Regions from separate parts of the Homo sapiens genome. Here regions 1, 2, 3, 4 and 5 are each linked to region 6. The links come from fine-mapping of genetic effects on gene expression. A gene starts in region 6. Each other region holds a variant in brackets. All regions are shown on one strand. Distances are from middle to middle.

Region 1 (4,091 bases), 50 kb before region 6:
GCATTCTCCTGAACAACCAATGGGTCAGAGAAGAACTTAAAAGGGAAATTTAAAAATATCTTAAGACAAACAGAAGTGGAAATACAATATACCAAAACTTACAAAATGCAGCAAAAGCAGTTCTAAGAAAGAAGCTTATGGCAATAAATGCCTATATTAAAAAAGAAAAAAGATCTCAAATGAACAACCTAATGTTACACCTCAAAGAACTAGACAAAGAAGAACGAACTAAAGTCCAAAGTTAGTAGAAAGAGTAAACAAAAAAGATCAGAGCAGAAATAAATGGAAACAAGAAAAACAATAGAAAAGATCAACAAAACTAAAAGTTGGTTCTTTGAAAAGATAAAAAAAATGGACAAACTTTTAGCTGGACTACAAAAGAAATAAAAGAGAAGACTCAAAATAAGAAATGAAAAAGGAGACATTATAACTGATACCACAGAAATACAAAGGATTATAAGAGATTATGATGAACAGTTATGTCAATAAATTGGATAATCTAAAAGAAATGGGTAAATTCCTGAAAATGTACAACCTACCAAAACTAAATCATGAAAATATAGAAAATCTGAACAAACTAATAACAAGTAAGGAGACTGAATCAGTAATTAAATAAAAAATCTTCCATCATGGAAAAGCCCAGGACCTGATGGCTTCAAGGCTGAATTCTACCAAACACTTTAAAAAGAACTAATACTAATTCTCAAACTCTTCAAAAAGCCCAAGTGCAGTGGCTCATGCCTATAATCCCAGCACTTCAGGAGGCTGAGGTAGGAGAAATGCTTAAGCCTAGGAGTTCAAGACAAGCCTGCACAACATAGTGAGACCCTGTTTCTACAAAAAATAAAAATAAATAAATAAAAATTAGGCAGGTGTGGTGTCACATGCCTGTAGTCCCAGCTACTCAGGAGGCTGAGGTTGGAGGATTGCTTGAACCCACCCCACAAGATTGAGGTTGCAGTGACCCATGCTTGTGCCACTATACTCCAGCCTTTATGACAAAGTGAAACTCTAAAAAAAAACTTCAAAAAACTGAAGAGGGATGCATACTTCCAAACTCACTTTACAAGGTCAGCATTATACTAATACCAAAGCCAGACAAGGAAACTACAAGAAAAGAATATTACAGGCCAATATCCCTGATGAACATGGATGCAAAAATACACAACAGAAAACCAGCAATCTGAATTCAACAGCAGATTAAAAGAATCCTTCACCACGAGCAAGAGGAATTAATCCCAGGGATGCAAGGATGGTTCAGCAATAAATTGATACAGCAAATTAACAGAATGAAGGAGAAAAATCATATGGTAATCTCTAAAGATACAGAAAAAGCATTTGACAAAATTCAACATCCTTTCATGATAAAAACTCTCAACAAATTAGGCATAGAGGGAATGTGCTGTACCTCAACACAAAAAGGCCGTATGTGACAAACCCACAATTAACATCACACTCAATGGTGAGAAGCTGAAAGCTTTTCCTTTAAGATTAAGAACAAGAAAAATATACCCACCCTTGCCACTTCTTTTCAACGTAGTATTGGAAGTCCTAGCCAAAGCAATTAAGTAAGAAAAAGAAATGAAAGTATCCAAATCAGAAAAGAAGAAGTTAAATTGTCTCTGCAGATAACATAATTTTATAAACAGAAAACCCTAAAGACACCACCAAAAAGCTTTTAAAACTAATAAACAAACTCAGTAAAGTTGCAGGATACAAAATCAACACACAAAGATCAGTACCATTCGTTTTTTTTTTTCTTGTTTTGTTTTTTTGTTTGTTTGTTTTTTAATAGAGATGGCTTCTCACTATGTTGTCCAAGCTGTTCTTCTCAAATTCTGGGCTCAAGCAATCCTTCCACCTCCTAAAGCATTGGGATTACAGGCAAGAGTAACCATGCCCAGCCATGTTTCTGTATACTAACAACAAACTATCAAAACAAAACAAAAAATCAAGGAAACAATCTCATTTATAACAGCATCAAAAACAATCAAATACCTAGGAATAAATTTAGCCAAGGAGATGAAAGATATGTACACTGCAAACTATAAAACACTGATGAAAGAAAGTAGGCCAGG[C/T]GCAGTGGCTCACACTGGGAGTCCCAGCACTTTGGGAGGCTGAGGCAGGCAAATCACAAGGTCAGGAGCTTGAGACCAGCCTGGCTAATATGGTGAAAACCCATCTCCACTAAAGATAAAAAAAATTAGCCGGGCATGGTGGCGCACGCCTGTAATCTCAGCTACTCAGGAGGCTGAGGCAGAAGAATCACTTGAACCTGGGAGGCAGAGGTTGCAGTGAGCTGAGATTGCGCCATTGCACTCCAGTTTGGGTGACAAGGTGAGACTCCATCTCAAAAAAAAAAAAAAAAAAAGTGAAGAAGACACGAATAAGTGATAAGATATCTTTTATGTTCACAGATTGGAAGAATTAATACTGTTAAAATGTCCATATTACCCAAAGTGATCTACAGATTCAATGCAATCCCTATCAAAATTCCAATGACATTTTTCACAGAAATAGAAAAAATAATCTTAAAATCTGTACAGAACTACATAAGACTCCAAATAGCCAAAGCAATCTTGAGCAAAAAGAACAAAGGCAGAGTCATCACACTACACTTGATTTCAAAATCTACTACAAAGCTATCTCAATCAAAACAAAATGCTACCAACATAAAAAACAAATACATAGACCAACTGAACAGAATAGACAGCCCAGAAATCTATCCATTTACAGTCAACTGATTTTCAACAAAGATGCCAAGGGGAAGGGACAGTCTCTTCAATAAATGCTGTTGGGACAACCGGATATCCACATGCAAAAGAATGAAATTAGACCCTTATCTCATACCATATACAAAAACCTATTCAAAATGGACTAAAGACTTAAATATAGACCTGAAACTGTAAAACTACTAGAAGGAAACATAGGAAAAAGCTTCTTGACATTGGTCTTCGCAAAGATTTTTTGAATATGATCAAAAAGCACAGGCAACAAAACAAAAATAGACAAACTGGATTGCATCAAACTAAAAAGCTTCTATATAGGAAAAGAAACAATCAACAGAGTAAAGAGACAACCTATGGAATGGAAGAGAACATTTTCACACCATACATTTGATGAAGCTAATATCCAAAATATATAAGGAACTTATACAACTCAATGGTAAGAAAACAACCCAATTTTAAAATGTGCAAAGGATATGAACAGACATTTCTCAAAAGAAGACATACAAATGGCCAACAGGTATATGGAAAAATGTTCAACATCACTAATCAGAGAAATGCAAATTAAAATCACAATGAGATATCACTTCACGCTCAGGATAGCTATTATCAAAAAGATGAAAGATGAGTGTTGGCAAGAATGTGAGGACAAGGAACCCTTGCACACTGTTGGTGGGAATGTAAATTAGTACAGCCAGTATGGTAAACCATATGGATATGTCTCAAAAAATCCAAAACAGAACTACCATATGACCTGACCCAGCAATTCCACTTCTGGATATATATCCAAAGAAAAGGAAATCAGTATGTCAAAAAGACATCTGCATTCCCATATTCACTGCAGCATTATTCACAATAGCCAAAATATGGAATTTACCTAAGTGTCCACCCCAACAAATGAATGGATAAAGAGAATGTAGTATATGAACACAATCAAATACTATTCAGCCTTAAAAACTAAGGAAATGGCCAGGCACAGTGGCTCACACCTGTAATCCTAGCACTTTGGAAGGCTGAAGTAGGAGGACTGCTTGAGCCCAGTTCAAGACCAGCCTTGGTAAGATGGCAAGACCCTGTCTCTACAAAAAAAAATTTTTTTTTAATTAGCTAGGTATGGTGGCTCAGATCTGTAGCCCTAGTTACTTAGCAACCTAAGGCAAGAGGATCCCTTGAGCCCAGGAGTTTGAGGCTACAGTGAACTATGATTGTACCACTGCATTCTGGCCTGGACAACAAAGTGAGAGCCTGTCTTAAGGCTAAGTGAAATAAGCCAGGCACAGAAAGACAAATACTGCATGATCTTATTTGTATGTAGAATCTTAAAAAGTCAGAATCACAGAAGCAGAAAGTAAAATGATGGTTATT
Region 2 (4,091 bases), 250 kb after region 6:
GCAATTATTAATCAATAAAATTAATTTAAAAAATCCCAAACAAACCTCAACTCTTAACTGCCAAGCTTTACACCTATCCTCCAGGGAAGTCTAATTCAGAGCAAACTCATGCTACTCTAATATTTAGCTTCTTTTTATCTTCTAGCACCTAGGGATTTCTCTTTCCTGTAAAGCTAAATTAAAAAAAAGAAAGAAGAAGAAAAAAAAAAACCTAAGGATGGTTATGTTTTATGTAGCACTTCTAGACTTTTTGTTGGTAGGAAGAGTTTAAATACTATTTTAGTCCATTTTTTTTGAATCTCCAATTTCTGTGAACATTATGGAAGTATGTGAGTAGTGTATTTTTTTTCCTAACCACTAGACAACCAGGGAATGTGACTAATGTAAATCTCTTCTCCTTATCTTCTTAAAATCTTTTAATAAAACCTGATTTCTTACTATTGTCTTGTGCAGTGCTGAGTTCTGTTTACTGGTGAGGGTGAAGTCAAAATTTTCCTAAAGAAAACTAGGTGCATACAGATGACAGGCAGATGTCTGGAGAGCTAAATGCTGAAGTGATATATCACTCAAGACTCTTACAGAAGTGTCCTAAAACTTTCTAGATGATTTGAAAACAATATATCTTCATTGAGGTCTCATGACATTTCTTAAAAATGTCCTATTGAGCTTTTTGATGTGCTGCTGGATTTGGTTTGCCAGTATTTTATTGAGGATTTTTGCATCAATGTTCATCAGGGATATTGGTCTAAAATTCTCTTTTTTTTGTTGTGTCTCTGCCAGGCATTGGTGTCAGGATGATGCTGGCCTCATAAAATGAGTTAGGGAGGATTCCCTCTTTTTCTATTGATTGGAATAGTTTCAGAAGGAATGGTACCAGCCCCTCCTTGTACCTCTGGTAGAATTCGGCTGTGAATCCGTCTGGTCCTAGACTTTTTTTGGTTAGTAGGCTATTAATTATTGCCTCAATTTCAGAGCCTGTTATTGGTCTATTCAGGGATTCAACTTCTTCCTGGTTTAGTCTTGGGAGAGTGTATGTGTCCAGGAACTTATCCATTTCTTCTAGATTTTCTAGTTTATTTGTGTAGAGGTGTTTATAGTATTCTCTGATGGTAGTTTGTATTTCTGTGGGATCGGTGGTGATATCCCCTTTATCATTTTTTATTGCATCTATTTGATTCTTCTCTCTTTTCTTCATTAGTCTTGCTAGCGGTCTATCAATTTTGTTGATCTTTTCAAAAAACCAGCTCCTGGATTCCTTGATTTTTTTGAAGGGTTTCTTGTGTCTCTATCTCCTTCAGTTCTTCTCTGATCTTAGTTATTTCTTGCCTTCTGCTAGCTTTTGAATGTGTTTGCTCTTGCTTCTCTAGTTCTTTTAATTGTGATGTTAGGGTGTCAATTTTAGATCTTTCCTGCTTTCTCTTGTGGGCATTTAGTGCTATAAATTTCCCTCTACACACTGCTTTAAATGTGTCCCAGAGATTCTGGTATGTTGTGTCTTTATTCTCATTGGTTTCAAAGAACATCTTTATTTCTGCCTTCATTTCGTTATGTACCCAGTAGTCATTGAGGAGCAGGTTGTTCAGTTTCCATGTGGTTGAGCAGTTTTGAGTGAGTTTCTTAATCCTGATTTCTAGTTTGATTGCACTGTGGTCTGGGTGCAGCACACCAACATGGTGCATGTATACATATGTAACAAACCTGCACATTGTGCACATGTACCCTAGAACTTAAAATATAATAATAATTTAAAAAGTCCTATTGAGGACATACTTTAAAAGTGGACTTCTGGTTATTTATTTTTTGTTTTAAAGTATTTTTAATTATTATGGGTACTGTATTAATTTGTTCTCACATTGCTGATAAAAACATACCTGAAACTGGGAGGAAAAAGAGGTTTAATTGGACTTACAGTTCTACATTGCTGGGGAGGCCTCAGAATCATGGTGGGAGGTGAAAGGCACTTTTTACATAGTGGGAAGAGAAAAAAATGGGAGGAAGCAAAAGCAAAAATCCCTGATAAACCCATCAGATCTCGTGAGACTTATTCATTATCATAAGAATAGCATGGGAAAGACTGGCCCCCATGATTCAACTACCTCCCCCTGGGTCCCTC[C/T]CACAACACGTGGGAATTCTGGGAGATACAATTCAAGATGAGATTTGGGTGGGGATACAGCCAAACCATATCATTCTGTCCTTGGCCCCTCCAAATCTCATGTCCACACATTTCAAAACCAATCACTCCTTCCCAACAGTCCCCCAAAGTCTTCATTCATTTCAGCATTAACCCAAAAGTCCACAGTTCAGAGTATCATCTGAGACAAGGCAAGTCCCTTCCACTTATGAGCCTGTAAAATCAGAAGCAAGCTAGTTACTTCCTAGGTACAATGCAGGTACAGGTATTGGGTAAATACAGCCATTCCACATGGGAGAAACTGGCCAAAACCTAGGGGTTACAGGGCCCATGCAAGTCTGAAATCCAGTGGGGCAGTCAAATTTTAAAGCTCCAAAATAATCTTCTTTGTATCCAGGTCTCACATCCAGGTCACATTGATGCAAGAGGTGGGTTCCCATGGTCTTGGACAGCTCTGCCCCTGTGGTTTGCAGGGTACAGCCTCCCTCCTGGCTGCTTTCACGGACTGGCGGTGAGTGTCTGCGGCGTTTCCAGGCACACAGTACAAGCTGTCAGTGGATCTGCCATTCTGGCCTCTGGAAGACGGTGGCCCTCTTCTCACAACTCCACTAGGCAGTGCCTCAGTAAGGACTCTGTGGGGGCTCCACCACCACATTTCCCTTCTGCACTGCCCTAGCAGAGGTTCTCCATGAGGGCCCCACCCCTGCAGCAAACTTTTGCCTGAGCAGCCAGGCGTTTCCTGGCCTGAAATCTAGGCAGAGGTTCCCAAACCTCAGTTCTTCTGTGCATCCACAGGCTCAATACTACATGGAGGCTGCCAAGACTTGGGGCTTCCATCCTCTGAAGCCACAGCCTGAGCTCCTCTACATTGGCCCCTTTCAGCCATGGCTGGAGTGGCTGGGACTCAGGGCACCAAGTCCCTAGGCTGCACACAACAGGGGGACCCTGGGCACAGCCCATGAAACCACTTTTTCCTACTGGGCTTCTGGGCCTGTGAAGGGAGGGGCTTCCATGAAGGTCTCTGACATGGCCTGGAGACATTTTCCCCATGGTCTTGGGGATTAACATTAGGCTCCTTGCTGCTTATGCAGATTTCTGCAATCGGATTGAATTTCTCCTCAAAAAATGGGTTTTTCTTTTCTACTGCATTGTCATGCTACACATTTTCTGAACTTTTATGCTCTGTTCCCCATTTGTTTTGTTTTATTTTATTTTATTTTATTTTATTTTATTTTATTTTATTTTATTTTATTTTTTTGAGATGGAGTCTGGTTCTGTCGCCCAGGCTGGAGTGCAGTGGCGGGATCTCAGCTCACTGCAAGCTCTGCCTCTCGGGTTCATGCCATTCTCCTGCCTCAGCCTCCCAAGTAGCTGGGACCACAGGTGCCCGCCACCGTGCCCAGCTAATGTTTTGTATTTTTAGTAGAGACGGGGTTTCACCGTGTTAGCCAGGATGGTCTCAATCTCCTGACCTTGTGATCTGCCCACCTCGGCCTCTCAAAGTGCTGGGATTACAGGCATGAGCCACCGTGCCTAACCTTTGTTTCCCTTTTAAAACAGAATGCTTTTTAACAGCACCCAAGTCACATTTTGAATGCTTTGCTGCTTCGAAATTTCTTCTGCCAGGTACCCTAAATTATCTCTGTCAAAGTTTCACAAATCTCTAGGGCAGGGGCAAAATGCTGCCAGTCTCTTTGCTAAAACATAACAAGCCTCACCTTTGCTCCAGTTCCCAGCAAGTTGCTCATCTCCATCTGAGAACACCTCAGCCTGGACCTTATTGTTCATATCCCTATGAGCATTCTTGTCAAAGACATTCAACAAGTCTCTAGGAAGTTCCAAACTTTCCCACATTTTCCTGTCTTCTTCTGAGCTCTCCAAACTGTTCCAATCTTTGCCTGTTACCCAGTTCCAAAGTTGCTTCCACATTTTCAGGTATCTTTTCAGCAACACCCCACTC
Region 3 (4,091 bases), 24 kb before region 6:
AAAATGGGGCCATATTTGGAAATAGGTTCATTGCAGATGTGATCAGTTAAGGACATGCAGATGAAATTATCCTAAGCCCTAAAACCAATGACTGGCGTTTTCCTAAGAGAAAGAAGAAGGAGATTTGGAGACAGACACAGACAAACAGTAAAGAAGGCCAAGTGAAGATAGAAGCAGAGGCTGGATCTCACTATGAGACAGACCAGGGTCTCACTATAAGCCAAAGAATGCCAAGGATTGCCAAGCACCACCAGATGCTAGGAAGAGGCAAGGAAAGATTCTTCCCTACAGCCTTCAAAAGGAGTGTGGCCCAGATGACATCTTGATCTCAGACTTCTAGCCTCCAAAACTGTGAATAAAAAAAAAACTGTATTTGTTGTTTTAAGCCACATATTTTGTGGTTATTTGTTATGACAGGCCTAAGAAACTAATACACAGGACTACTAGAAAATGTTAAATAATACATGCGGCCTCCATATTACTATTGGATATTGGTGCACTAGACTATAAAGGGACTCCACCCCCAAGCCCCAGGTCTTCACTATGGACCCTAACAGTTTAAGCATAGAATAGTCTCAGCATCCCTAAGTGGTCCTAACTCTTTAAAGTTATACCCTATTGATATATATGAGAATCCCTTGAGTTTTCCTTACTTGTTTCAGTATTTTTTGCAGGATATGAAAATTGGTTCTTGCATGTGTGCATGCTCCATGGGACACCTAACAACCTAAGTGTACAAAATTTTTAATATATATGGGACTCGTTACTTGATTTGCTAAAAAGGACATACTGTGTCCTTTAAAAAACAGTCAATGCTCTTATCCTTGACTGCCAGCAAAGCATTTTCTGCCAAGTTTTCTGAGCTGCTGCTACCATGCCCTCCACTTTGGCCTTCATCTCCCCATTCCAATGTTCAGGCCTGGCCACTGTTCTTCGAGATAAGAGGTCTCCTTTCAAAACACCTTTCCCATGTCTCTCCTTAATTAGGCATGACAGCTGCTGTCTAAGGGAACTCCCAAGGGAGTTGGCCTTGCAGCTTTAATGAAGTACCAGCTGAAGGACAACCTTTTAGGGAGTGCACTGCCAAGCCAATTACTGTAGCAGCTAGCAACCTGGGCACAGGGAGGGGAAAGCTACCCAGATGACTTCATCCCCCCAAGAGCACATCTCTGCAGACATTGCAGAACCAAGAAAGAAGAAAAGGCCACTGCACTACTTTCAACAGGACTGGGATAATGTTTTCATCCCAACAGGATCCAGGGTTAGAGGTCAATAGTATGCAACCGATGTTGTTATAGTATGCAGAAACCAGGATGGATGATGAGAAAGAAGATAAACTGGATAAACAAGTAGTCACAACCCAGATTACAGACAGACAAGGGGTGGAGAGCTCACAGTTCACGCAGTGTTAATGAGTGAGATGGGTGTGAAGATATTTGAGTGGCATCCAGAGGAACAGGAGAAAGACAGCCAGCTGTCTAGCAAAATTCTGTCATGCTTAAAATATTGGAAAGTCGCATTTGTTGGAAAACTTAAATTAGTGTCAAGGATGTCCCACAGCAAGAACACGTTGATGGAAAATTTATTCAGTATAACTGATCCAACATTTATTTAGCACCCAAAATTAAAAATGTACATGTACTCTTATCTCACTCGATGTAAGTAAAGTATGAATTATTGCCATTATTAAAAGAGAAAGCTGAGGCTCTAGGTGATAAGAGACTTGCCTGGGGTTACTCATTCTACCCTGCAGATGCACAAAATGTGTCCAGGCAGGTAACTGGCACTGTGGTTGTGAGAGAGGAAGGACTCACTCTTATTCACTACCTCTCTGCTCCATGCTGGACAAAGTCATAATGTTTAAATGTCAAGGATCAAAACCGTAACTTCTCACCCAATAAGATCTCTCTAACCAAATATAGATAGGAGGAGTAAATTCTGGTGTTCTATCGCACAGCAGAGTGACTATAGTTAACAATAATATATTGCATATTACAAAATAGCTACAAGAGAGGATTTTGAATGTTCTCATCACAAAGAAATGACAAGTGATTGAGGTGATGAACATGCTAATTACACTGATTTGGCCATTACACAATGTATACATGTTTCAAAACACCACACTATGCCCCCATCAATATGTATAATTATTAGGTGTCAATTAAACACAAAATAAGTTCTTTTTTCAAAAGGAGC[T/C]GACAATAACAAATTATCAGGCATGTGAAAAATTGGAATCCTCATACAGTGTTTGTGGGATGTAACAAGGTACAACCACCTTGGAAAACAGTTTGCTAGCTTCTTATATACTAATGGAACAGAATAGATAGCCCAGAAATAAACCCTCACAGATAATGGTCAAATGATTTTGACAAGTGTGCCAAGACCATTCAATAGAGAAAGGACAGTCTTTTCAATAAATGGTGCTGGAAAAACTAGGTATCTGTGTGCACAAGAATGAAGCTGGACCCTTAGCTAATAACACACACACAAATGAACTCAAAATAGATGAAAGACTTCAACATAAAATTGTGAATCTCGGCCGGGCGTGGTGGCTCACGTCTGTAATCCCAGCACTTGGGGAGGCCGAAGCAGTTGGATCACGAGGTCAGGAGTTCAAGACCAGCCTGGCCAACATGGTGAAACCCTGTCACTACTAAAAATACAAAAATTAACCGGGCATGGTGGCTCACGTCTGTAATCCCAGCTACTTGGGAGGCTGAGGCAGGAGAATTGCTTGAACCTGGGAGGCAGAGGTTGCAGTGAGCTGAGATTGTGCCACTACATTCCAGCCTGGGCAACAGAGCAACCATCTCAAAAAAAAAAAAAAAAAAAAAAAAAAAAAAGAGGCCTACTCAGAAGTTGCTGTGAGGTGAGATCGCACCACTGCACTCCAGCCTGAGCAACAGGGCGAGACCCCATCTCAAAAGAAAAAAAAAGAAAGAAAGAAAGAATCTCTTAAAAGAAAATACAGAAAAAATCTTCATGATACTAGATCAGGCAATGGTGTCTTGGATATAATACCAAAAGCACAGGCGGCCAGGTGTGGTGGCTCAGGTGTATAATCCCAGCACGCTGGGAAGGTCAGGAGTTCAAGACCAGCCTGAGCAACAAACAAGACTCCATCTCTACAAAAATTTTAAAAATTAGCTGGACATAGTGGTGCACGCCTGCAGTCACAGCCACTCAGAAGGCTGAGGCAGGCAGATCCCTTGAGCCTAGGAATTCGAGGCAGCAATGGGCCATGACTGTGCCACTGTACTCCAGCCTGGGAAACAGAGCAAGATACTGTCTAAAAATAAATAACAAAAACACAGGCAACAAAAGAAAAACAGATAAACTGGAATTAGGAAAAACTTTAAATTTCTGTGCACCAAAAGACATACACAACAGAGTGAAAAGGCAACCCAGAGAATGGGAGAAAATATTTGCAAACCATATATTTGATAACAGGTTAATATCCAAAATATATAAAGAATGCCTACAACTCAACAACAACAACAACAACGAAATTTTACAATGGGCAAAGGACTTGAGCAGACACTTCTCCAAAGAAAATATACAAATGGTCAATAAACACATGAAAAGATGCTCAACATCATTAATAATTATGAAAATGGGCCAGGCACGGTGACTCACGCCTGTAATCCCAATACTTTGAGAGGCTGAGGCAGGTGGATCACCTGAGCTCAGGAATGCAAGACCAGTCTGGCAAACAAGGCGAAACCCCGTCTCTACTAAAAACACAAAAATTGGCTGGGCGTGGCGGCGCATGCCTGTAATCCCAGCTACTCGGGAAGCTGAGGCAAGAGAATCGCTTGAACCCAGGAGGCAGACGTTACAATGAGCCGAGATCATGCCACTGCACTCCAGCCTGGGTGACAGAGCAAAACTACCTCTAATATATATATATATAAAATAAAATATATATAATTTCTATATATTATATATTATATATAATAATATATAATATATAATATATAATTTATTATGTTATATATAATATATTATAAATTATATATAAAATATATTATATATTATATTTTATACATAATAAATATTTTATATATATTATATTTTATATATTATATATT
Region 4 (4,091 bases), 190 kb after region 6:
TATTTTGTTAAGGATTTTTTGCATTTAAGTTCATCAAGGATATTGGTCTGTAGTTTTTTTTTGTTTGTTTTGTTTTTTTGTTGTTGTTGTTACATCCCTTCCTGGTCTTGGTATTAGGATAATATGGGTTTATATAATGATTTAGGGAGGATTCTCCCTCTATTTTTTGGAATAGTTTCAGTAGTACCACCTCTTCCTTGATTGTCTGATTGAATTCAGCTGTGAATCCATCTGGCCCTGGACTTTCTTTTGTTGGCAGTTTTTTTTTTTTTTTTTCAATCTCATTGCTTGTTATTGGTCTGTTGAGAGTTTCTATTTCTTCCTGGCTTAATTTAGGAGGTTTGTACATTTCCAGGAATTTATCCATCACCTCTAGGTTTTCTAGTTTGTGTGCATAAAGGTATTCATAGTAGCTTTGAATGATCTTTTGTGTTTCTGTGGTATCAGTTGTAGTACCTCCAGTTTCATTTCTAATAAAGTTTATTTGGCTCTTCTCTCTTCTTTTCTTGGTTAATGTTGCTAATGATCTATCAGTTTTATTTATCTTTTCAAGGAAGTAGCTTTTCATTTCTTTTATCTCTTGTATTGTTTGTTTTGTTTCAATTTTATTTATTTCTGCTTTGATGTTTATTTTCTTCTGCTGTGTTTGGGTTTGGTTTGTCCTTGTTTCTCTAGTTCCCTGAGGTGTGACCTTAGCTTGTCTATTTGTGCTCTTTCAGACTTTTTGATGTAGGCATTTAATGCTATGAACTTTCCTCTTAGCGCTGCTTTTGCTGTATTGCAGAGGTTTTGATAGATTGTGTCACTATCATCGTTCAGTTCAAAGAATTTTTAAATTTTCATCTTGATTTCATTGCTGACCCAAACATCATTCATGAACAGATCATTTAATTTCCATGTATTTTCCTGATTTTGAGGGTTCCTTTTGAAGTTGATTTCCAATTTTATTCCACTGTGGTCTGAGGGAGTACTTGATATAATTTTGATTTTCTTAAATTTATTAAGGTTTGTTCTGTGGCCTATGATATCATGTATCTTGGAGAATATTCCATGTGCTGATGAATAGAAGATACATTCTGCAGTTGTTGGGTAAAATGTTCTGTAAATATCTGTTAAGTCCATTTTTTCTAGGGTATAGTTTAAGTCCATTTGTTCTTTGTTCACTTTCTGTCTTTATGAACTGTCTAGTGCTGTCAGTGGAGCATTGAAGTCCCTCCACTATTATTGTGTTGCTGTCTATCTTATTTCTTAGGTCTAGTAGTAATTGCTTTACAAATTTGGGAGCTTCAGTGTTAGATGCATATATGTTTTATTAATTTGGACGCTCTAGTGTTAGGTGAAAGATTATGATATTTTCCTGTTGAACTAGTCCTTTTATCATTATATTTGTCTTTTTTAACTGTTGCTGCTTTTTAATTTTTTAATTTTTTTTTGTTTTTTAACTGTTATTGCTTTGAAGTCTGTTTTGTCTGACATTGACATTAACATTTAACTGTTATTGCTTTGAAGTCTGTTTTGTCTGACATTGACTAGCTACTCCTTCTCACTCTTGGTGTCCATTTGCATGGAATATCTTTTCCTCCCCTTTCTCTTACGTTTATGTGAGTCATGTGTTAGGTGAGTCTCTGGAAGAAAGCAGATACTTGGTTGGTGAATTCTTATCCATTTTGCCATTCTATATCTTTTAAGTGGCTCATTTAAGCCATTTCCATTCAATGTTAGTATTGAGATTTGAGATACTATTCTATTCATCATGCTAGTTGTTGTTTGAACATTTTGTTTTTCTTTTTCCATTGTGTTATGTTTTATAGGCCCTGTGAGATTTATGCTTTAAGGAAGTTTTATTTTGGTGTGTTTTGAGCTTTTCTTTCAAGATTTGGAATTCTTTTATCATTTCTTGTAGTGGTGACTTGGTAGTGGTGAATTCTCTCAGCATTCGTTTTTCTGAAAAAGACTTTATTCCTCCTTTATTTATGAAGCTTAGTTTTGCTGGATATGACATTCTTGGCTGATAATTATTTTGTTTAAGGTGGCTAAAGATAGAACGCCAATCCGTTCTAGCTTGTAGGGTTTCTGCCGAGAAATCTGCTGTTAATCTGATAGGTTCCCCTTTATAGGTTACCTGATGCTTTTGCCTCACAGCTGTTAAGGCTCTTTCTTTTATGTTTACCTTAGATAGCCTGATGACTATGCCTAGGTGATAATCTTTTTGTGATGAATTACCCAGGTGTTCTTTGAACTTCTTGTATTTGGATGTCTAGACCTGTAACAAGGCCAGGGAAGGTTTCCTTAATTATTCCCTCAAAGACATTTCCCAAACTTTTAGATTTCTTTTCTTCCTCAGGAACACCAATTATTCTTAGATTTAGTTGTTTAACATAATTCCACACTTCTTAGAGGCTTTGCTCATTTTT[A/T]AAAAAAATTCCTCTTTTTTTGGCTTTGTCAGATTGGATTAATTTAAAAGCCATGTCTTTGAGCTCTGAAATTCTTTCTTCTATTTGTTGGCTTGTATTCTTGAAACTTTCCAGTATATTTTGCCTTTCTCTAAGTGTGTCTTTCATTTCCAGAAGTTGTGATTGTTTTCTATTTATAATATCTATTTCTCTGGAGATTTTTCATCCATATCCTGTATTATTTTTTAATTTTTTTTGAGACAGAGTCTCACTCTGTCACCCAGGTTGGAGTGCAATCTTGGCTCACTGCAGCCTCCACCTCCTGGGTTCAAGTGATTCTCCTGCCTTAGCCTCCTGAGTAGCTGAGATTACAGCACCTGCCACCATAGCCAGCTGATTATTGTATTTTTAGTAGAGACGGGGTTTCACTATGTTGACCATGCTGGTCTTGAACTCCTGACTTCAGGTGATTCACCCACCTCGGCCTCCCAGTGTGCTCGAATTACAGGCATGAGCCACTGTGCCCAGCCAGCTTTTTTGTTCATTTCTGTTTATTGATGAATAACATTCCATTGTCTGGATGTACCACATTTTCACCTATTGAAGGCTATCTTTGTTGCTTCCAATTTTTAAAAGAATGTTAAATAACATTATATTTACTACAGAACATTCATTCATATTATATTTTATAATATTAAAGAATATTTTGTTTCTTTATGTAATATTTTAATTTTTTTCATTGACAACCATTGTACATATTCATGGTAAACATAGTGATATTTCAATGCATATAATGTACAGTAATCAGATCAGAGTAATTAGCATATTTATCATCTCAAACATTTATCATTTCTTTGTTTTGGCAATGTTCAATGTTCTACTTGTAGCTATTTGAAACTACATAATAATGTATTGTTACCTATAGTAATTCAGTGGAATAGAACACTGAAACTTATTCCTCCTATCTCACTGTAATCGTATCCCTGAAAAACTTCTCCCTATCCCTCCCTTCTCCCTACTCTTCCCAAACTCTAGTATCCTCTGTTCTACTTTTAACTTACATGAAATCAACCTTTTTAAGCTTCCATACATAGGTAAAAATATGCAGTGTTCAATTTTCTGTTTCTAGGTAATGATGATGTTGATGATGATAATGATAATGATGATGATGATGATTATTATTATTATTATTTAAGACAGGACCTCACTCTGTCCCTCAGGCCAGAGTACAGGGGTGTGATTATGGCTCACTGTAGCCTCAACCTTCTGGGTTTAAACAGTCCTCATACTTTAGCCTCCTGAGTAGATAGGACTATAGGCATGCACCACCAGGCCTGGCCACCCTGTCGTTTGTAGAGACAGGGTCTTCCTCTGTTGCCCAGGCTGGTCTCAAATTCCTGGGCTCAAGTGATCCTCCCACCTTGACCTCTGAAAGTGCTGGGATTACAGATATGAGCCGCTGTGTCTGGCCTTATTACTTTACAGGCCCATCTGTCTCAGTATTTCTGGCTTATTTGACTTAACATAATATCCTCCAGTTCCATCCATATTGCCATGAATGACAGGATTTTATTCTTTTTTTTTTATGGTGGAATAGTATTCAATTGTGTATGTGTATATATATACCACTTTAAAAAATCCATTTGGTCTAGATTCCTCCTCTCTGGGCAGGGCATCTCTGAAAGAAAGGCAGCAGCC
Region 5 (4,091 bases), 120 kb before region 6:
ACTTACTAAGTACTCAATAAGTAAATTGTTGTAAGGATTCAGTGAGTTAGTACATATCAAATGCTTAGAAGAGTGCTTAACACTTACTAAGTGCTCGATAAGTGGTAGATTCCTGAGGAAATTACTTGGTTATGGGAATCTATGCAGCATCCACAGATTGACTATCTGCACTAAATTATTTCTGCTCATTCAAACCTACTTAGTACCAGTACAAATAAAACAATAGTCATATTAACAATACTTCAATACTGATTTAGGTGAAAAGCCTTTTTTAAATTTATAGTGTTAAGTTAAAATTTTTATATAGTGTTTTACATTCACTTGAGACCATCTTCACATACATTAAACACATCCTCACTATAGCTTTGAGCAGAAAAGCATGTGTCTATACTCAGGAGGCTGAGGCAGGAGAATGGCGTGGACCCGGGAAGTGGAGCTTGCAGTGAGCCGAGATCGCGCCACTGCACTCCAGTCTGGGCGACAGAGTGAGACTCTGTCAAAAAAAAAAAAGTGTCTGATGAGAAAAGACTCAAGATAATAAATATGGTGTTTCATCATAAAGGGTGTTGGGAAGTAGCATTTGTGCAAGAAGATACATGTAATAAGTAAAACAGAGAGTAATTAAAATTTATTCCAGCTTGGTATTATAGAAAAGGTGGGAAATGTAGCCTGGATCGGGATTGTTAGGTGAGTTCACATACACCTGCATGATCACACTCGAGTGATTTTGATCTTTAGCATCTTGCAAATTGGTATCCAGCATCATAATGGAAAGTTTCATCCTCTCCCTCATCCTGTTCAATATTTTTTTCAATAACATGAATATGAGAAAACATATAATTGACAAATTCGTAATTTATAAATGTAAATCTTAGAAGGAATAGGTAACAGTAAATATTGGAACTGGAATAAAAAATGCCTCACAGGTTAATACAAGGGTAGGGGGAACGTCCTATAAAATTAAGCCCACATCTACTTCTTGACCTAACAATTTCACTATTTGGTATTCACATAAGAGAAATGAAAGCATATGTTTACAAAAAGACCTACAAAAAAAATGTTTATAGCAGGCTTATTGTAAGACCCAAACGTAGAAACTACCCAAATGTCCACTAAACTTGAGAAGATAAACAAATCGTGGAATATTACAATAGTATACTCTTCAGCAATAAAAAGGAATGAACTTCTGATACATATTACAATGTGGATGAGCCAGACCCCAGGAAGTACAAACTGTGACCCCATTTATATGAAATCAAGTAACACAAAACGAATCTATGGTGACAAAAATCAGAAGTGGTTTTCTGGAGACAGGGAAGGAGAATTGACCTGAAAGGGGCACGAGGGAACTTTTCTTAGGTGATAAGAATGTCCTGTCTTTAGGGTCGTGATTATACTGGTGTAGACAATTGCCAAAAGTCATCAAACTTAGCACCTAAGACCTATGCTTTTTAATAGAGACAGGGTCTCACAATGTTTGGCCAGGCTGGTCTCAAACTCCTGGGCTCAAGCGATCCTCCTGCCTTGGCCTCCCAAAGTACTGGGATTATAGGCATGACCCACCACACCTGGCCTGACTGGTGCATTTTCTTGTATGTTAACTATACCTCAATTTTTAAAAATGTTTTTCGTTTTGAGATGGTGTTTCGCTCTTGTTGCCCAGGCTGGAGTGCAATGACGCAATCTCAGCTCACTGCAACCTCCACCTCCCAGTTTCAAGTGATTCTCCTGCCTCAGCCTCCCAAGTAGCTGGGATTACAGGCATGCGCCACCATGCCCGACTAATTTTGTATTTTCAGTAGAGACAGGGTTTCATCATGTTGGTCAGGCTGGTCTCAAACTCCTGACCTCAGGTGATCCACCTGCCTC[G/A]GCATCCCAAAGTGCTGGGATTACAGGCATGAGCGACTGTGCCCAGCCTAAAAATGTAGACAGGATCTTGAGTTGTGCACATAGCTACAACTGTACAAGTATGCTTGGGTGTGTTGAGGGATAGGAACAGTGCTGGCACACTAACTTAATAGTACTCTGTGGGAAACTTGAATTAGAGCTTGATCATAAACAGCTGACTTCAACCCAACCTACGGGCTTTCTTATAAAGCTTTGCCTGTCCCACTGATGGGCAGTACTATTGCATAAAAATGCAAATTTCCCATTCACAGATGTTTTTAAGTAGAAACTAGATGTCCATCTGTTAACAGCAGAAGATGGCAGGTTGACAGAGCAAAGATTTTTTTTTTTTTTTTTTTTTTTTTTGAGACAGTCTCGCTGTTACCCAAGCTGGAGTGCAGTGGTACAATCAAGGCTCACATAGCCTTGACCTCCTAGGCTAAGGTAATCCTCCCACCCCTCAACTTCCCAAGTAGCTGGGACCACCACTGTGCACCACCACACTCGGCTAAATGTTTTCTGTTTGTTTTTTTGATTGATAGAGATACGGTCTCACTACGTTGCCCAGGCTAGTGAGAGCAAAGATTCTTAAACTGGGGTTCACCAATGAACTTCAGGAGGGTCCAAGGACCAAGTGAACTGATATGCAGAAAGTGCACACATGTAAACATGTGCATTATTTTCAGAAGGTCCTTAGCCTCCAAGTTCTCCAGGATTTCTTTTAAAGAACTTCAAACCTAGATAAACTGAGACTGGTAACCCTTGGTTCAGCTCATAAAATTTAATACACATACCCAGAGTCATGTCAAATGAAGATCTTTGGACAACAATAGCCTGTGTATACTATGGTGGTCCCATAAGATTATAATACCATATTTTTACTGCACCTTTTCTATGTTTAGATACGTTTAGATACACAAATACTTACCATTGTGTTACAGTTGCCTACAGTATTCAGTACAGTAAAATGCTATACAGGTTTCTAGCCTAAGAGCCATAGGCCATACTATGGAGCTTCAGGACTGTGTAAGTACACTCTAGGATGCTCACACACCAACAAAATCACCTAACATTGCATCTCAGAAGGTATCCCCATCGTTAAGTGGTACATAACTGTATATAAATGTATATACATGTATATAAATACACACACACAAATTACACGTATCATTTCTCATCTTTTTCAACTCCTGATCCTGTGAAAGTTGTCGGACTTCCCAATAAGAAGAGGGAGCAGGAAGCTTGACTTTTAATTTTTCTCTGCTTTGTTGAAATAATACTGCTTTTTAATAAACCCAAAGAAAATCTCTAGCTTTGTCATTGTTAGCTTCCTTTTTCCACAAGTAAAGATGTTCCCATAAATAAATATATAAATATATATATTTGTATATTTATGTATTTATATATATATGAATTTACATATTTATATATAAATACATAAATATATACATAAATACATTAAAGAGGACCTTTCATAATGCTTATGGTTGTTTCCTCACTTCCTTATAGCATCTTTTTTTTACTTTGTTGAAGCTCTTCCTCCAGAGTATACCTGGAAATCTTTCATTTGCTCTTTTTGTCTCTTTAAATTCATTTTCAGCTCTTTACCTGAGACATTAGTAACATTGTTTTCATCCTGTCAATCTTCATCATCACTTATTGATAGCACTGATACACCCAAAGGAGAAAGTAAATACCACTTTAATACCAGCAGCTTTAAGACTCAGAACCATCTATTTCAGTCCCTGCCACCACCTTCCCTGTCCACCCTCCACTACCCCCTACACAGATACCTTTTTTCTGCCAGGAAAAAATGTCTGAATGGTCAAGAATTGTAAACCTATATTTCAACAGATGAAAAAAGTATCAACCTAATTACTACCTCTTAAGTAAGAACTTGCAACCATTTCTGACCTTTGATATTCCAGAATAGCTGATTGCTTTTCTTTGGCATTTTCACTTTGCTAAGAGGAGAATGCTAGTTAAGGGATAGAGCAGAATAGCTCTAACGACAAGAGCTGCCACCAGTTACCCTTCCTTGTGCGGCACTTAGAATCCTTTTAAATAAACACTGAGGGTTAGTCTAAAGAATATTAGCTTAAAGGGGTGACAAATAATTAACTGGTCCACAGTACCTCAGTCTGATCTTGTTTCTACTTCTTAGTTTCTGAAAATATAAATTGTTCGTCCAGGTAAAATGAAAA
Region 6 (4,091 bases):
AGTGTAGGATACAGAGGTGCTTAACATAAACCTGAGCATATGGTGTGGAAAAAGAGCAAGCATAGACATTCCATTGTGACTGAGAAGCTCCTGCAAGTACCAAGAAGAGTATAACCTAGATGTTCTAGTAGAATAAATTATAGTTATGTCAAAATTCAGAAGTGGTCACTGCAGCTTGGTTGTGACAATCGGGAATCTGGAATCTGGGAACTTGACCCTCTTTACAGCAGGCAGGAAGAATACAGGGAGGTGTGAGTGTGTGTGAGTGTGTCTCTTCCCTGCCTCAGCCACAGGCCGCAGGAGCTGACAAGGCCAAGTCCCCGCCCCCCTCAGCTGTCACCCTGTCAAAACAAAGCCGCTGCTGACAGCGCAGGGCCAGCCTGCCCCGCGGCCTCGGGCAATCCTCCCACCTCGGGAACACAGCCTCCACATCTGGATCTGCAGCTGGAGGTGACAGGGTGCCTAAACTGGCATGGAGAGTGGGTAGCAAGAAATGGGTGTCCTCAAACTGAGCAGTAGCGCCCGCCGCGCTGGGCTGTCACTTTGCCAAATCCTGTTTACACCTCGAGCAGCTGGGACAGCGTTTTAACTAAACAAGTAATAATACAATAATGACAGGGCTGTCACCGCGCGCGGCAGTGCCTCCGCCCCCAGCCGAGGGCGCCAGGCACCACAAGACCCTCGCCTCGGACTCTGCCCACCTTCCCACCCCGCGCTTTCCTCCCCTTCGCTTTCCCAAAGCGCCAGGAGTCCGGGAGTCTTCTCCACCCCCACTCCTTGCACCCAGTTCCTCCCAGTGGGACACAGGAAGGGATCGATTGCAGAAGGGACCACTCAGTCCCCCAAAAGATTTTTCCTTGCCCCTGGGTCACCCGCCACATGGAGAGCACCGCTCCACTCCCGGGAAAGTGACTCCAGCGAGCTCCTACAGAGCAACAAAACCCCAAGGTAGCCCGGGAGCTCGGATGCCGAAGCTACTCCTTTCAAGCGGAAGGAATGAAGGGCTCTCCGTCTTAGTGATCCCCCTTCTTCAAACCCAGCAGGACTCTTATCCAAGAAGAAGCTAATTGGGCGCGGGCGACAAGAGCACTTCCGCGGTGCAGCGGCCCCAGGCGGGAGGCGAGAGGCAGGAGGCGGGAGGCGGAGGTGGAAGCGGGAGGGGGAGGGGGGTCCCGCGGGCTGGGCCCCTAGCACCCATCCGCGGTCCGAGAGCGGCGAGCGCGTACCTTGCAGGCGGAGTACACTCCGAGTTTCTCCAGTTTCTTGGCCCGCGGAGCGGAGCGTAGTTGCGCTTTCTTCACGGCGATTCGGGCCGAGCCACCGCCTCCCGGTCCTTCGGCCGTGCCCGCTGCAGCCACTGCCGTCGCCGGACCGCAGGCGCCCGAGCCCCCGGCGGCAGCGGCGCAGGGGGAGCCCTGCGGGGGCGCGGGCGGAAGCGCCGCAGGCTGCGGGGGCAGCGCCCCGGGCCCGGCCCCTGCCCCGGCTCCTGCCCCGCAGCCGCCCGGCCCGGCCCCGCCAGCCTCGGACATGCCGCCCCGGAGCACGGCAGGAGGCGCCGAGTGTCAGGCGCCGCCGCCGCCGCCAGGGTCTCCCTCTCGGGCTCTGGTAGTCGGGAGAGCGAGACCCTCCCCCCACGCCCTCCCGCCCCCTTCGCCCACCCCCCTCCCCGCCCCCGCCCTCCCCCTAGCGCGCCGCTCGCCCGGCTCGCTCTGGCCGGGCCCCGCGCGCTGATGGTGGTGGCGGCGGCGGCAGCGGCGGCAGCTGCTCCCCCAGGAGGGAGGGGACTAGCGGCTCCGCTGCCGCTGCCGCCGCCGCCACAGCACACGCCCTCCCTTGGTTCTCCTGCCCGGGACTCTGCTCCGCGCCCTGGCTGCGGACATGTTCCTCGGGACTGCGGACTAGGTGTGCGTGCCGGCGGCTGCCAGCCTCACGGTGTCTGCCAGCGCTGGGAGGCCCCCCACGGCCTCTTTTCCGCTGCCCGCGGGGTTTGCACCCCCCACCCCAGTGCTTCGACACCTACCGCTCGCCCGCCAGGGGGCGAGGCCAATCCCTGGGTGTGGGTGAGGGTGGGGACGAGGGTGGGGGTAGGGGCCTGGAGCCCAGGCACCTGCTGGCCACCTCCCCCCTCCGCGGCCCCCCATCCGACCCCCGCACGCCTGCACCAGTGGGAGGGGGCAGCCTCTCAATCATTTGTCCTTTCACTCTCTTCCACCCTGTCTCTGACAGAGAGACAACTTCCTCCACCCTAGCGGGAGCCAGAGGAAAAAAAATATATTTTTGAAAAGTACCCGTCCATGCTAATCTTTTTCTTTGTTGCTAATTCACCAAAATAAAGACGTGATGTTCTCCCTTTCTCTTTTTAAATACTTTCTGTCAAACTATTTTTTAATATAATTAACACTTTCTTCCCATAGCAATTTCTGGGTCAAATCTGCCGGAGGAGGGGAAAAAAACTTACTATTCTCTGTAATTTTTGTTTGAAAGTGCTGGTTGCTAAAAGAAAGATTGTCTAAAAAGCATTGTCAAAAACTATGCAGTGGAAAAAGTTTGAATACAAAAAGTTTGTTAACAGGATTCGTTTCTGGGTGGTGGTTCTATAACGTTACGTAGTTTTCAAAATTGTGCCACCGCGTGCGTATTAACCAGGAAAAAGATATAAGCATAATTCAAAAGAATAAATATCGATTTTGGCCTCAAACTTTAAAAAGAAAAAAAAAACCCTCAACTCAGTGTTTCCAACTCTTGTTGAAAACTGTTGTTTTCACTGTTGATGACTGTGGAGCATACAAGTCAGTGCTGCGTTTGAAAGTGGTGTACCGTTGATCGCCTTCTTAAGCAGGTTTTAAAAGCCCAGGGCTTTTTCTCAGGACCCTTCAGAAGTGCCCTACTTTTTGTTATATGCAATGTGGGTCATAATGTGCTTATTATCAGATTTTATGCATGCTGTATAGCTCTCAGGCCAGACGCTTTAAGGGGTGTGCTTTTCGTGGGAAACATTCCCCTTCTTCTTTTTCCAGATTCTCTGTGTTATTTTGACTTGTAATGCAGGTTAATATATAAACATTGGGAGGTGGGGGAGTTTGTAGATCTAAACAGTGATATTAGCTTAGACAGGGCAAAAGGCAATATTCTCTCCCAACTTGAGTCCAGTCTTGAGGGGATGAAATGGCAGATTCTTATCAGGTTCCATTCAGGACAATTAATTTCAGTGCTTCCTTTCTTAGCTTGACGTGCTTCACGTTACCAGTGTTACTCTCTCCTGGCTCTGCTGAGATGTTTCGCAGATTTTTGCCATTCTCCGCAAAGCAGGGTGAGAGTCTTAAAGGCTGTGCTTCTCTGATCAACCTCTAACATGGATTTAACAGATACTAATAAGAGCTTGGGTTCCACCTTGCAGGCATTTGTCAAACTGATGGAATGATCCACTTGAGATCTGTACATTTCACTGGATATAAATGTTGCCTCAAAAATTTTTAAAAAAAGAAAAATCACAAGCATTGAACTCTAATGGTGCTCTTTGTACTTTGAGATACATCAAAAATAAGATGTATGGATGCCTCCATGCATGGGTAAAGGGTGGATGAACAGAGATATGATAAAGCAAATAGGGGTCCATATAATAGAGTCTAGGTAATGGGCACAGTGCGCAATTCTTTCAACTTTTCTGTATGTTTGAAAATTTTCACAGTGACAATTGGGGGAGGGAACCCAGATTTAACATTAAGTCACCTATCAACTCCTCCTCCCAAGCGTCCCTCAGAATTCAGGAGGCAGACAATTTCCAGGATGTTTTGAAGCAGAAGTAGCCAATCTCCTTTCAATCCACTCTGAAAACCATCACTGTCTGAGTGGCGAATGGCTTGTGCCATTAACTGAACATTATTTTTCATTATTTCCCTGCTCAGAGTACCCAGATGACATACTGCCTTAGGCTGAAGGCCCGTGGTTTCAAGACCTATTCAAAGTGTGTTATGAGCACCAGGCAAGGAAATTTCAAGGGCAAAGGATTCAGGAGGCTTATTGCTTTTCCATAATTAGGTTGTTGTAAGCATTCAGTGTGCTCTTTCTGTGCACACAGTACTTTTAAGAAA

Alleles and levels. Alleles are on the strand shown, and positions count from the first base shown. SD is a standard deviation of normalised expression in the study named. Not every link is listed here.
With allele T in place of A in region 4, the expression in CD4 T cells of the gene that starts at base 1,561 in region 6 is lower (large effect, 1.4 SD a copy in CEDAR).

The links.
Region 1: its variant is fine-mapped to the expression of KAT2B in hypothalamus (GTEx, PIP 0.92).
Region 2: its variant is fine-mapped to the expression of KAT2B in whole blood (TOPMed, PIP above 0.99).
Region 3: its variant is fine-mapped to the expression of KAT2B in whole blood (TOPMed, PIP above 0.99).
Region 4: its variant is fine-mapped to the expression of KAT2B in CD4 T cells (CEDAR, PIP 0.92).
Region 5: its variant is fine-mapped to the expression of KAT2B in whole blood (INTERVAL, PIP 0.99).

Annotation. Positions count from the first base shown.
Region 1 is chr3:20,087,680-20,091,770 of GRCh38, reverse strand. All of the region lies in intron 2 of KAT2B (lysine acetyltransferase 2B), which reads right to left. Among named protein-coding and RNA genes, the nearest start is that of MIR3135A, 48 kb to the left of the region's middle. The variant C/T (reference allele first, on the strand shown) is at 2,079.
Region 2 is chr3:19,785,548-19,789,638 of GRCh38, reverse strand. No RefSeq gene overlaps it. Among named protein-coding and RNA genes, the nearest start is that of EFHB, 150 kb to the left of the region's middle. The variant C/T (reference allele first, on the strand shown) is at 2,114.
Region 3 is chr3:20,062,287-20,066,377 of GRCh38, reverse strand. All of the region lies in intron 1 of KAT2B (lysine acetyltransferase 2B), which reads right to left. Among named protein-coding and RNA genes, the nearest start is that of KAT2B, 24 kb to the right of the region's middle. The variant T/C (reference allele first, on the strand shown) is at 2,197.
Region 4 is chr3:19,847,053-19,851,143 of GRCh38, reverse strand. No RefSeq gene overlaps it. Among named protein-coding and RNA genes, the nearest start is that of EFHB, 85 kb to the left of the region's middle. The variant A/T (reference allele first, on the strand shown) is at 2,415.
Region 5 is chr3:20,155,414-20,159,504 of GRCh38, reverse strand. No RefSeq gene overlaps it. Among named protein-coding and RNA genes, the nearest start is that of SGO1-AS1, 17 kb to the left of the region's middle. The variant G/A (reference allele first, on the strand shown) is at 1,870.
Region 6 is chr3:20,037,916-20,042,006 of GRCh38, reverse strand. It overlaps KAT2B (lysine acetyltransferase 2B), which reads right to left and starts at 1,561. Exons shown (of 18, transcript NM_003884.5): 1 at 1,227-1,561. The coding sequence starts at 1,529. RefSeq lists enhancers at 60-249, 966-1,936 and silencers at 1,100-1,159, 1,360-1,489, 1,660-2,299.